Regions from separate parts of the Homo sapiens genome. Here region 2 is linked to region 1. The links come from fine-mapping of genetic effects on gene expression. A gene starts in region 1. The other region holds a variant in brackets. All regions are shown on one strand. Distances are between the middles of the regions.

Evidence for each region. PIP is the estimated chance that this variant, and not a neighbour inherited with it, causes the effect. A credible set is the group of variants that fine-mapping cannot tell apart.
Region 2: its variant is the best candidate, but not a certain one, in a credible set for the expression of SNUPN in lymphoblastoid cells (GEUVADIS, PIP 0.72).

The regions. Positions count from the first base shown.
Region 1 is chr15:75,622,476-75,627,846 of GRCh38, forward strand. SNUPN (snurportin 1) reads right to left here and starts at 3,250. Exons shown (of 9, transcript NM_005701.4): 1 at 3,191-3,250. RefSeq lists a silencer at 2,729-2,778 and an enhancer at 3,429-3,618.
Region 2 is chr15:75,536,429-75,541,799 of GRCh38, forward strand. All of the region lies in intron 1 of PTPN9 (protein tyrosine phosphatase non-receptor type 9), which reads right to left. Among named protein-coding and RNA genes, the nearest start is that of PTPN9, 40 kb to the right of the region's middle. The variant AT/A (reference allele first, on the strand shown) is at 2,887.

The DNA of each region.
Region 1 (5,371 bases):
CACTTTAGGTGGACCCTAAAGAATGGGAGTGGGGAGAAAGGTGAATTCACACTTCATTCAAGCGCCTGTGAGCCTTAGATTATAAGAAAACAGGAACATTTGGGAGAAATCTGACTTGCACTGCTGGGCTGGCCCAGCCCTTTGGTTCTAGTGTAAACCAGAGGGCACCTCCAGTGCTTAACCTCCATCCCAGGCCAGGTCCAGTGCTCTGAGCATCAAAATCAACAGGTTCATTCCAGAGCCTCTACAGTGAAAAATACAACTCCATAGGCCTCTACTTGGCCAGTGAGTTACTTTCCATTGCACAAGTGAAGTCAGATATTTTTCTTGATTTGAAACATTAGATTTTGTTTAATTTAAAAGGAACTTAAAAATCGTGGTTTGCCAGGTGCAGTTGTGCTTGCCTTTAGTCCCAGCTACTCTGGAGGCTGAGGCAGGAGGTATGCTTGAGCCCAGGAGTTCGAAGCCAGCCTGGGCAATATAGCAAGACCTTGTCTGTAAAAAGAAAAAAAAATTGTGGCTAAATACACATATCATGAAATTCATCATCTTAACCATTTGTAGGTGTACAGTTCTGTAAAGTTAAGTATGTTCAACACTGCTGTGCAGAACTCTCCAGAACTCCTTTTATCTTGAATAACTGAACCTCTGTAACCTTTAAACATAAAAGAAACTTTTTTTTTTTTGAGACAGAGTTTCACTCTTGTTGCCCAGGCTGGAGCACAATGGCACGATCTTGGCTCACCACAACCTCCGCCTCCCAGGTTCAAGTGATTCTCCTGCCTCAGCCTCCCGCGTAGCTGGGATTACAGGCGCCCGCCACCACGCCCGGCTAATTTTGTTTTTGTATTTTTTAGTAGAGACGGGGTTTCACCGTGTTAGCCAGGATGGTCTCGATCTCCCGACCTCCTGATCTGCCCACCTTGGCCTCCCAAAGTGCTGGGATTACAGGTGTGAGCCACCACGCCCGGCCTTTTTTTTTTTTTTGAGACAGGGTCTCACTTTGTCTCCCAGGCTGGACTACAGTGGTGTGATCTCGGCTCACTGCAGCCTCCACCTCCTGGGTTCAAGTAACTCTCCTGCCTCAGCCTCCTGAGTAGCTGGGATTATAGACATGCACCACCATGCTCGGCTAATTTTTGTATTTTTAGTAGAGAAGAGGTTTCATTATGTTGGCGTGGCTGGTCTGAAACTCCTGACCTGAAGTGATCTGCCTGCCTCAGCCTCCCAAAGTGCTGGAATTACAAGCATGAGCCACTGCACCCGGCTTGAGGTGTGCCTTAATATCTTTGCAATGCAACCAAGGGTTGCCATTCCTGAGTGACTGAGGCCTCATGATGAGTGCTTGGGATCCATATGGTATGTTATTCAAATCATCCATAATGGTATGTATGCTATTGTCTCTACTTTTCTGTACTTTTGTGTAAGTTTGAAAGCTTTCATGATAAAATTTTTTTTTTTTTTTTTTTTGAGACGGAGTCTCGCTCTGTCGCCCAGGCTGGAGTGCAGTGGCGGGATCTCGGCTCACTGCAAGCTCCGCCTCCCGGGTTCACGCCATTCTCCTGCCTCAGCCTCCCAAGTAGCTGGGACTACAGGCGCCCGCCACTACGCCCGGCTAATTTTTTGTATTTTCAGTAGAGACGGGGTTTCACCGTTTTAGCCGGGATGGTCTCGATCTCCTGACCTCGTGATCCGCCCGCCTCGGCCTCCCAAAGTGCTGGGATTACAGGCGTGAGCCACCGCGCCCGGCCGATAAAAATTTTTAAAAAGTCATTATGTTTTCAGTTCATCACCAAAGTAATGACCAAATCCAAAGCACCTTTATTAGGCCTATCATGCACTATCTTGGTGTGGGCTCCCGCTCTGCCAAGAACCACACAACCTTTGAAACTGATGTCCTGGGCCTGGCGCGGTGGCTCACGCCTGTAATCCCAGCACTTTGGGAGGTTGAAGCGGGCAGATCACCTGAGGTTAGGAGATCGAGACCATCCTGGCTAACACAGTGAAACCCCGTCTCTACTAAAAAAAAAAAAAAAAATACAAAAAAATTAGCCAGGCATGGTGACGGGCGCCTGTAGTCCCAGATGCTCGGGAGGCTGAGGCAGGAGAATGGCTTGAACCCGTAAGGCGGAGCTTGCAGTGAGTCGAGATCGTGCCACTGCACTCCAGCCTGGACTTCGTCTCAAAAAGAAAAAAAAAAGAAAAACTGATGTCCTGGATACTGGGGCGGTTCCTTTACCTTCCTTCAAGGCTGTTCTTGGCGGGTTCCTGCTGTTTCGTTTTGTTTTTTCTTTGTTGTTGTTGTTTTTTTTTTGAGACAGAGTTTCGCTCTTGTTGCCCAGGCTGGAGTGCAGTGGCATGATCTCGGCTCACTGCAACCTCCATCTCCCGGATTCAAGCGATTCTCCTGCCTCAGCCTCCCGAGTAGCTGGGATTACAGGCACGCGCCACAACGCCCGGCTAATTTTTTTTGTATTTTTAGTACAGATGGGGTTTCACCATGTTGGTCAGGCTGGTCTCAAACTCCTGACCTCAGGTGATCCGCCCACCTCGGCCTCCCAAAGTGCTGGGATTACAGGCGTGAGCCACTGCGCCCCGCCGGGCTCCTGCTGTTTCAACCCATTCCTTGGATGGTGCTGCCTCCAAGTGTTCGGACCTTAGCCCCAGGTGGTCTTAGCACCAGTAACCCCCGCTCCAACTCCCTAAAGTCCGACCCGCCCCAGGCCCCGCCCACGCTCCACCCTCCCTCCCTGTCTAGCCCCCTCCCCCATCCCCTTCCCCCTCCTTCGCGTCTCCCCATCCGGCGCCCCCGCCTCGCGTCCCCTGGGTCCGCATCCTGGCAGCCTCCGCGTTTCCCTACCCCTGCTACCGGGCTCCAGCCCCGGGGACGCTATCTGCTTCACTCGGCCGTGCGCGCCGCCACCGCCCCGCACTGCCTTTTTCTAGGCATGGGGTCATCTAGGCCATGCATGATTCGCCCCTGCCCCACAGAAGTCCCTGAGGGGTCCTGGCCGGACAGCACGGAATAGAAGAACGGAAACTCTCCCAAAAGGAGTCCCAGGCCTGGCTCTATCCCTCCAGATGACGTCCCAGGAGGCCAGAGTGCAGGGCCGGCCAGAGGGAGTCACAGTCCGGCACCGAGAGGCAACTCGGCAGCTGGCGGGGCCCGGGCTCGAACCCAGGGACTCACCCAAACCGAGGTGACCGTCGCACGCGCCGCCGCCACCGGGGCCGACGAATCACCTGCCCTGGGAAGCTAGGTCCGCCCTCCCCCCGCCCCCAGCTGCTGCCTCACCGCTGGGCCCACAGGCCTCGCGCCCTGAGTTTCCGGCTCCTCCCTCCTTTGCGAACGCTGGGAGTTCCGTTGCCTACAGGCCGTTATTTCCGCCTTCAACGGCTGGGGCATTTCCCATCGGCTAGGGAGGGGGTCTTCTTGCATTTGCTTTGCACTGTCCGGGACTCTTCCTGCTAGATGACTTGACCAGGCCGAGGCCTCCCTCCTGAACACAAGCTCTTCGGGGCTCCTTTCGCCAATGGGAGGAGGCTGATCTTGTGGCCGGGCATTCAACGCCCTGGGCCCTGCCGCCTCCCGCAGATCTTCCCGGGCCTTAGGGCTTCACCTGGAGTCCCCTTCCCCTCTTGGGCCCGTGCTCTTAAACGGGCAGTGCCAATTGCCTGGATTACTCCAACTAACCCCTCACACCCAAGTTTCAGACACAGACCTTCGCTCCCCCACTTGCCCTTAACAAAAGCAGATACATACCTCGATTACTGCCTGTTTGCTGCTTTTGCGAGCTTCTTTCCCACTCGGCTGCGGGCTGAGCAATGGTAGGGACCTGGCTTGATTCCTATTTAAGTAGCCAGAGTCCAGCACAAGGGATGGCGCTCAGTAGACCCTGCGTGAAGGAATGATTAAATTGGTGCAAAAGACTAGGGTAAGCGGCAGAGATTTAGGAGATTAAGTCCTGCCAGGGTGTAGCCTCTGCAGGGCGGGAAGGCTGAGATTACAATTTTAAAACTGAATATTTATTGAATGCTTACATTCAGCCAATCCCTGCTTCACACCCATCATCTCATTTAATTTTTTTCCTTTTTTTTCTTTTTTAAGCCAGTAGATATTAACTCTTAATCATGACATGAGGAAGTAGACACACTGAAGCTCAGAGAGGTTAAGTAATTTGGCCAAAGTAACACAGCTTTCAAGGAAAATGTTTGAATTTGCTGAAAGTTTGATGTATAGGGAAGTTGACTACCGATGTATGACAGAAGCAAAGTATCCACCTTTGGCACATTTTGCGTCCACGGAATGCTAAAATTTGGACTTGTGTATTTTATGCACATTACACCATACATTCAGACTAAAAAGAATAGGAAATTAGGCTGATGAAAGGCTATTACTAGACTGGTAAAAAGGGTTCTGGGGCCCTGGAAGGCCAATTTTTCTGGACGTGAGATTTTTTTTTATTTTTTTGAGATGGAGTCTCGCTCTGTCGCCCAGGCTCTGGAGTGCAGTGGCGCAATCTCCGCTCACTGCAAGCTCCGCCTCCCGGGTTCACGCCATTCTCCTGCCTCAGCCTACTGAGTAGCTGGGACTACAGGCGCCTGCCACCATGCCCGGCTAATTTTTTTGTATTTTTAGTAGAGACGGGGTTTCACTGTGTTAGCCAGGATGGTCTCGATCTCCTGACCTCATGATCTGCCCGCCTCGGCCTCCCAAAGTGCTGGGATTAAAGGCGTGAGCCACCGCACCCGGCCTGGACCTGAGATTTTATTTAGGTGGCTCTTTCAGTGGCCAGGCTGAGCAAAGCTGTCCACTAGGGTATTTATTTGGTGCATCCACAAATAAAAGCTCATGTCTGCCTGATTTATGAGACTGACAAAAAAGAGAAGTCCAGGGCCTGACTTCACTAGGGAATTTTGACACCCAGGATATTAGGTATTTTGTGTCCAAACAACCATCCCTTACAACCACGGAGGTCACATCTAATGGTCGGGCTGCATAGAAAAGAATAAAGACCTTAAACATTTTAGGAAAATAGACTGAGACTGAGAAAGAAGTTCCCAAATTCATGCCTGGAGGTCCAGGAGAAATGTTCTAGTTCCTCACTCACACCTAGCTGAATAACTTCCCATATCACTGAAAAAACAAAACAAAACCAGGTCAGGCACTGTGGCTCATGCCTGTAATCCCACCACTTTGAGAGGCCAAGGTGGAAGTAGCCCATGAGTTTGAGACCAGCCTGGGCAACATGACAAAAACCCATCTCCACAAAAAAAAAATTAGCTAGGTGTAGTGGTATGAGTCATGATCCCAACTACTTGGAAGGCTGAGGTGGGAGGATCACTTGAGCCCAGGAAGTCATGGCTGCAG
Region 2 (5,371 bases), 86 kb before region 1:
GTTCTATGAACAGAATGCTATGGGATTCAAACTCTCTCTATGGATATAAAAAAAATTTTTTTAGGAGTGCCTTGAAGGATGAGTAGGAATCTGTCAGGCAGAGAAAAGTATTCTAGTCAGAGAACAAAATGTTTCAAATCAGGGTCATGAAAGAACAGGGCTTATTGGGGATATCATATAGCTAGTGTGTCCAATGTGTATGAGGGAGAATGGTGGGAGATGTGTGAACAGGGGGGCTGAACCAGACTGGGAAGGCCCTTGTATGCTGTACTTCAAATTCCAGACATGATCCTATAAACATAAAAGATTCAATAGAGATCTTTAAGCAAAGGGATGAGATGATGAGTTTGGTTCCCCTCTCCCACCTCAAAAAAATAACTATAAGCAGTGGGGAAGTCAGACTGAAAGGAAAAAAAATCTAGCAACAGGGAGGTAAGTTCCCTGAAGACAGGGATCATATCTATTTTATTCACCTAGTTCCTAGCACTGTGCCTGGCACAAAGCACTTACTTAATAAATATCTATGATGAATGAATGAATTAATTATTGAAGTCTCAATATTATTAACATTTAGAGGGCAGACAGAAGATGAAGAACAAAGGAACTTTTACAATTTTCTTTTAGAAATACTAGTGATTGCAGGCCAGGCATGGTGGCTCACACCTGTAATCCCAGCACTTTGGGAGGCCAAGGCAGGCGGATCACCTGAGGTCAGGAATTCGAGACCAGCCTGACCAATATGGCAAAACTCCGTCTCTACTAAAAATACAAAACTTAGCTGGGCATGGTGGTGGGCGCCTGTAATCCCAACTACTCAGGAGGCTGAGGCAAGAGAATTGCTTGAATCCAGGAGGCTGAGGTTGCAGTGAGCCGAGATCATGCCATTGCACTCCAGCCTGGGTGACACAGTGAGACTCCGTCTCAAAAAAAAAAAAAAAAAAAAACTAGTGATTGCTGAAAATCAAATAAATGGTGATCTAAACAAAAACAAGAGGAATCGTCAAATATCTTCCCTAAAAAAAAAAAAAAAAAAAAAAAAAAAAGGCCAGGCTCGGTGGCTCACGCCTGTAATCCCAGCACTTTGGGAGGCTTAGGTGGGTGGACCATGAGGTTAAGAGATCAAGACCATCCTGGCCAACACGGTGAAACCCCCACCTCTATTAAAAATGCAAAAAACTTAGCTGGGCGTGGTGGTGCGCACCTGTAGTCCCAGCTACTCGGGAGGCTGAGGCAGGAGAATCACTTGAACTCAGGAGGCGGAGGTTGCAGTGAGCCGAGATGGTGCCACTGCACTCCAGCAGGGCAACAGAGGGAGACTCCATCTCAAAAAAAAAAAAAAAAAAAAAAAGGCCAGGCGTGGTGGCTCACACCTGTAATCCCAGCACTTTGGGAGGCCAAGGCAGGCGGATCACCTGAGGTCAGGCGTTCAAGACCAGCCTGGCCAACATAGTGAAACCCTGTCTCTTCTAAAAATACAAAAATTAGCTGTGTGTGGTGGTGCCTGCCTGTAATCCCAGCTACTCAGGAGGCTGAGGCAGGAGAATCACTTGAACCCAGGAGGCAGAGGTTGCAGTGAGCCAAGATTGTGCCACTGTACTCCAGCCTGGGAGAGAGAGCAAGACTTTGTCTCGAAACAAAACAAAACAAAACAAAACACACACACACACAAAGCTTCACAGTAAAGATAGCTCTCACATTACAGGCTTCTCCGAGGAATGTAAAGACTTGGTTTAACATCAGGAGATCTATCAAAGCAATTTTTATGTTAACAGGAAAGGAAAAAAAAGTATATAACCTTCTCAACAGATGCTGAAAATGCACTGCGTAAAATCCATCACACATAGGCCCCGTAATTTTTTTCTATTAAAGATGAGAAGGCCAGCAGGTACCTGCTATTACCACCACTATGTAACATTGCACTGAAGGTCATACCTAACAGAAGCCAAAAGATGCGTAACAACCTGATGCAAAAAGACAGGAATTTTAGGCCAGGTGTGGTGGCTCCAATCTATAATCCCAGCACTCTGGGAGGCCGAAGTGGGCAGACTGCTTGATCTCAGGAGTTCGTGACCAGCCTGAGGAACATGACAAAACCCCGTCTCTACAAAAAATACAAAAATTCGCCCAGCATGATGGCACACGCCTACAGTCCCACAAGTGGGAGGATCACTTAAGCCCGGGAGGCAGAGGCTGCAGTGAGCTGAAACTGTACCACTGCATGGCCCCCCAGCCTGGGTGACACAGCCAGACCCTGTCTCAAAAAAAAAAAGGAATGTTAAAGAAGAGAATAAAATTCAGAAACCACACAGTGTATATCTAAGTATACAGTATATGAAACAAGTAATATGACTATTAGTAAGCAAAAAGTATTATAGGAATTTAGATATGCACATAAATATTTGTAGGATACACAAAAAACTGGTAATAATGGTCACCTCTGGGGAGAGAAAATGAACTGGGGCTGGGTGTAATGCTTCACACCTGTAACCCCAACACTTTGTGAGGCTGAGGCAGGAGGATCACTTGAATCCAGTAGTTCCAGACCAGCCTAGGCAACAAAGCAAGACCCAGTCTCTATAAAAAAAATAAAAAAGAAAGAAAGAAAGAAAGAAAGAAAATGAACTGGGAAACAGCATTGGAAGATAACTATAAGCAACCTTTAAAAAATTTTTTTTTGGCCGGGCGTGGTGGCTCACGCCTGTAATCTCAGGTGTTTCACCATTTTGGCCAGGATGGTCTTGATCTCTCGACCTCATGATCCGCCCGCCTTGGCCTCCCAAAGTGCTGGGATTATAGGCGTGAGCCACTGTGCCCGGCCAGTGATTTATCTTTAGTAAACAAATTACATTTACTATCTTCTCTCTGAAGGAAGTTGGTATTTAGAAG[AT/A]TTTTTTTTTTTTTTTGAGATGGAGTCTCGCACTGCCACCCAGGCTGGAGTGCAATCGCACAATCTTGGCTCACTGCAACCTCTGCCTCCCAAGTTCAAGTGATTCTCCTGCCTCAGCCTCCCAAGAAGCTGGGATTACAGGCGTACCTGCCTACTTTTTGTGTGTGTTTTTAGTAGAGACGGGGTTTCACTACGTTGGCCAGACTGGTCTCGAACTCCTGACCTCATGATCCGCCCGCCTCAGCCTCCCAAAGTGCTGGGATTACAGGCATGAGCCACCGCGCCCAGCCTAGTAGAGAAGATTTAATTGGAGGACCACGAAGGTAGAAATGTTCACCCATTTGAATATGTGAACTTTTTTATTGTTGTTTTTTGAGATAGAATCTCCCTCTGTCACCCAGGCTGGAGTGCAGCGGTGTGATCTCGGCTCACTGCAACCTTGGCCTCCCAGGTTCAAGTGATTCTTCTGCCTCAGCCTCCTGAGTAGCTGGGATTACAGGCGCGCACCACCACGCCAGGCTAACTTTGTATTTTTAGTGGAGACGGGGTTTCACCATGTTGGCCAGGCTGGTCTCGAACTCCTGGCCTCAAGTAATCCGCCTCAAGCAACTCCCCTGACCTCCCAAAGTGCTGCGATTATAGGCAAGAGCCGCCACGTCTGGCCTGAATGTGTGAACTTCTAAATTATATGTCACGTTTTATTTATTAGGAAGTGTGAAGTATAGAATTCCTTATGGCTAAGACCTATAAAGGTATCATTAAAAAATTTAAAGACATAAAATACCCCTCAGTTTCTCTGCCTTTTTGAAGGAAAGCATCAGAAATAAAAAACAAAAGTGAAACTGACTTTTACAAAAGTTTAGTCCATTGAGATAGAGCAAATAAATAGGCACAATGAAAGAAAAGGGAATAGAGTCAACTAAGTTTGAGTGCACTGTAAATACTTTTTTAAAAATAATGTGTGGCCGGGCATGTTGGCTCACGCCTGTAATCCTAGCACTTTGGGAAGACAAGGCAGGTGGATCTCAAGAGTTCGAGACCAGCCTGGCCAACATGGCAAAACTCTGTCTCTACTAAAAATACAAAAATTAGCCAGACGTGGTGGCACATGCCTGTAATCCCAGCCATTCAGGAGGCTGAAGCAGGAGAATCGCTTAAACCCAGGAGGTGGAGGTTGCAGTGAGCTGAGATCGCACCAGCCTGGGTGACAGAGCAAGACTCTGTCTCTAAAAAAAAAAAAAAAAAAAGAAAGAAAGAAAGAAAGAAAGAAAAATGTGAATCAGGTCTGATTGGAAGCACTACTTCTGCTGCCTTCCTGTTTGTACTTTTCAGTTGCTGCAAGAATGATCCAGGCGGCTGCTAGGTGAGGTGACACATAATTCCAGCATTTTGGGAGGCTGAGGTGGGAGGATTCCTTGAGACCAGCATGGATAACATAGTGAGATCCTGTCTCTATTTAAAACAAAAAAAGGATGATCCAGGTGGGACGAGATGACTCATGCCCGTAATCCAAGCACTTTGGGAAGCTGAGGTGGGAGGATCGCTTGAGCCCAGGAGTTTGAGACCAGCCTGGGCAACACAGGGAAACCTCGTCTCTAAAAAAAAAATTAAAAATTAGCCAGGTGTGGTGGTGCACACCTGTAGTCCCAGGTACTCAGGAGGCTGAGGTAGGAGGATCACTTGAGCCTAGGAGGTCCAGGCTGCAGTGAGCTGTGATCACACCACTGCACTTCAGCCTGGGTAACAGTGAAACCCTGTCTCAAAAAATAAAAAAATAAAAAATAAAAAAAAAGAGACAGGATCTTGCTCTTGCCCAGGCTTGAGTGCAGTGGCATGATCATAGCTCAGTGTAACCTTGAAGTCCTAGGCTCAAATGATTCTCCTGCCCCAGCCTCCCTAGTAGCTGGAACTACAGGTGTGTGCCACCACATCTGGCTACTTTTTTAATTTTTGTAGAGATAGGGTCTCACCAGCCGAGACTGGTGTCGCACTCCTGGCCTCCAGTGATCTTCCCCCATTAGCCTACTGAAGCGCTGGGATTACAGGCATGATCCACCACACCTGCCCTCATTTTATTATTATTATTATTAATTAATTAATTAATTTTTTGAGACAGAGTCTCGCTCTGTCGCCCAGGCTGGAGTGCAGTGGCATGATCTCGGCTCACTGCAAGCTCCGCCTCCCAGGTTCACACCATTCTCCTGCCTCAGCCTCCCCAGTAGCTGTAACTACAGGTGCGCGCCACCATGCCTGGCTAATTTTTTGTATTTTTAGTAGAGACGGGATTTCACCGTGTTAGCCAGGATGGTCTTGATCTCCTGACCTCCTGATCCGCCTGCCTCAGCCTCTCAAAGTGCTGGGATTACAGGCGTGAGCCACTGCACCTGGCCTTTATTATTTTTTGTTTTTGAGACGGAGTCTTACTCTGTCACCTAGGTTGGAGTGCAGTAGTGCGATCTCAGCTCACTGCAACCTCCACCTCCC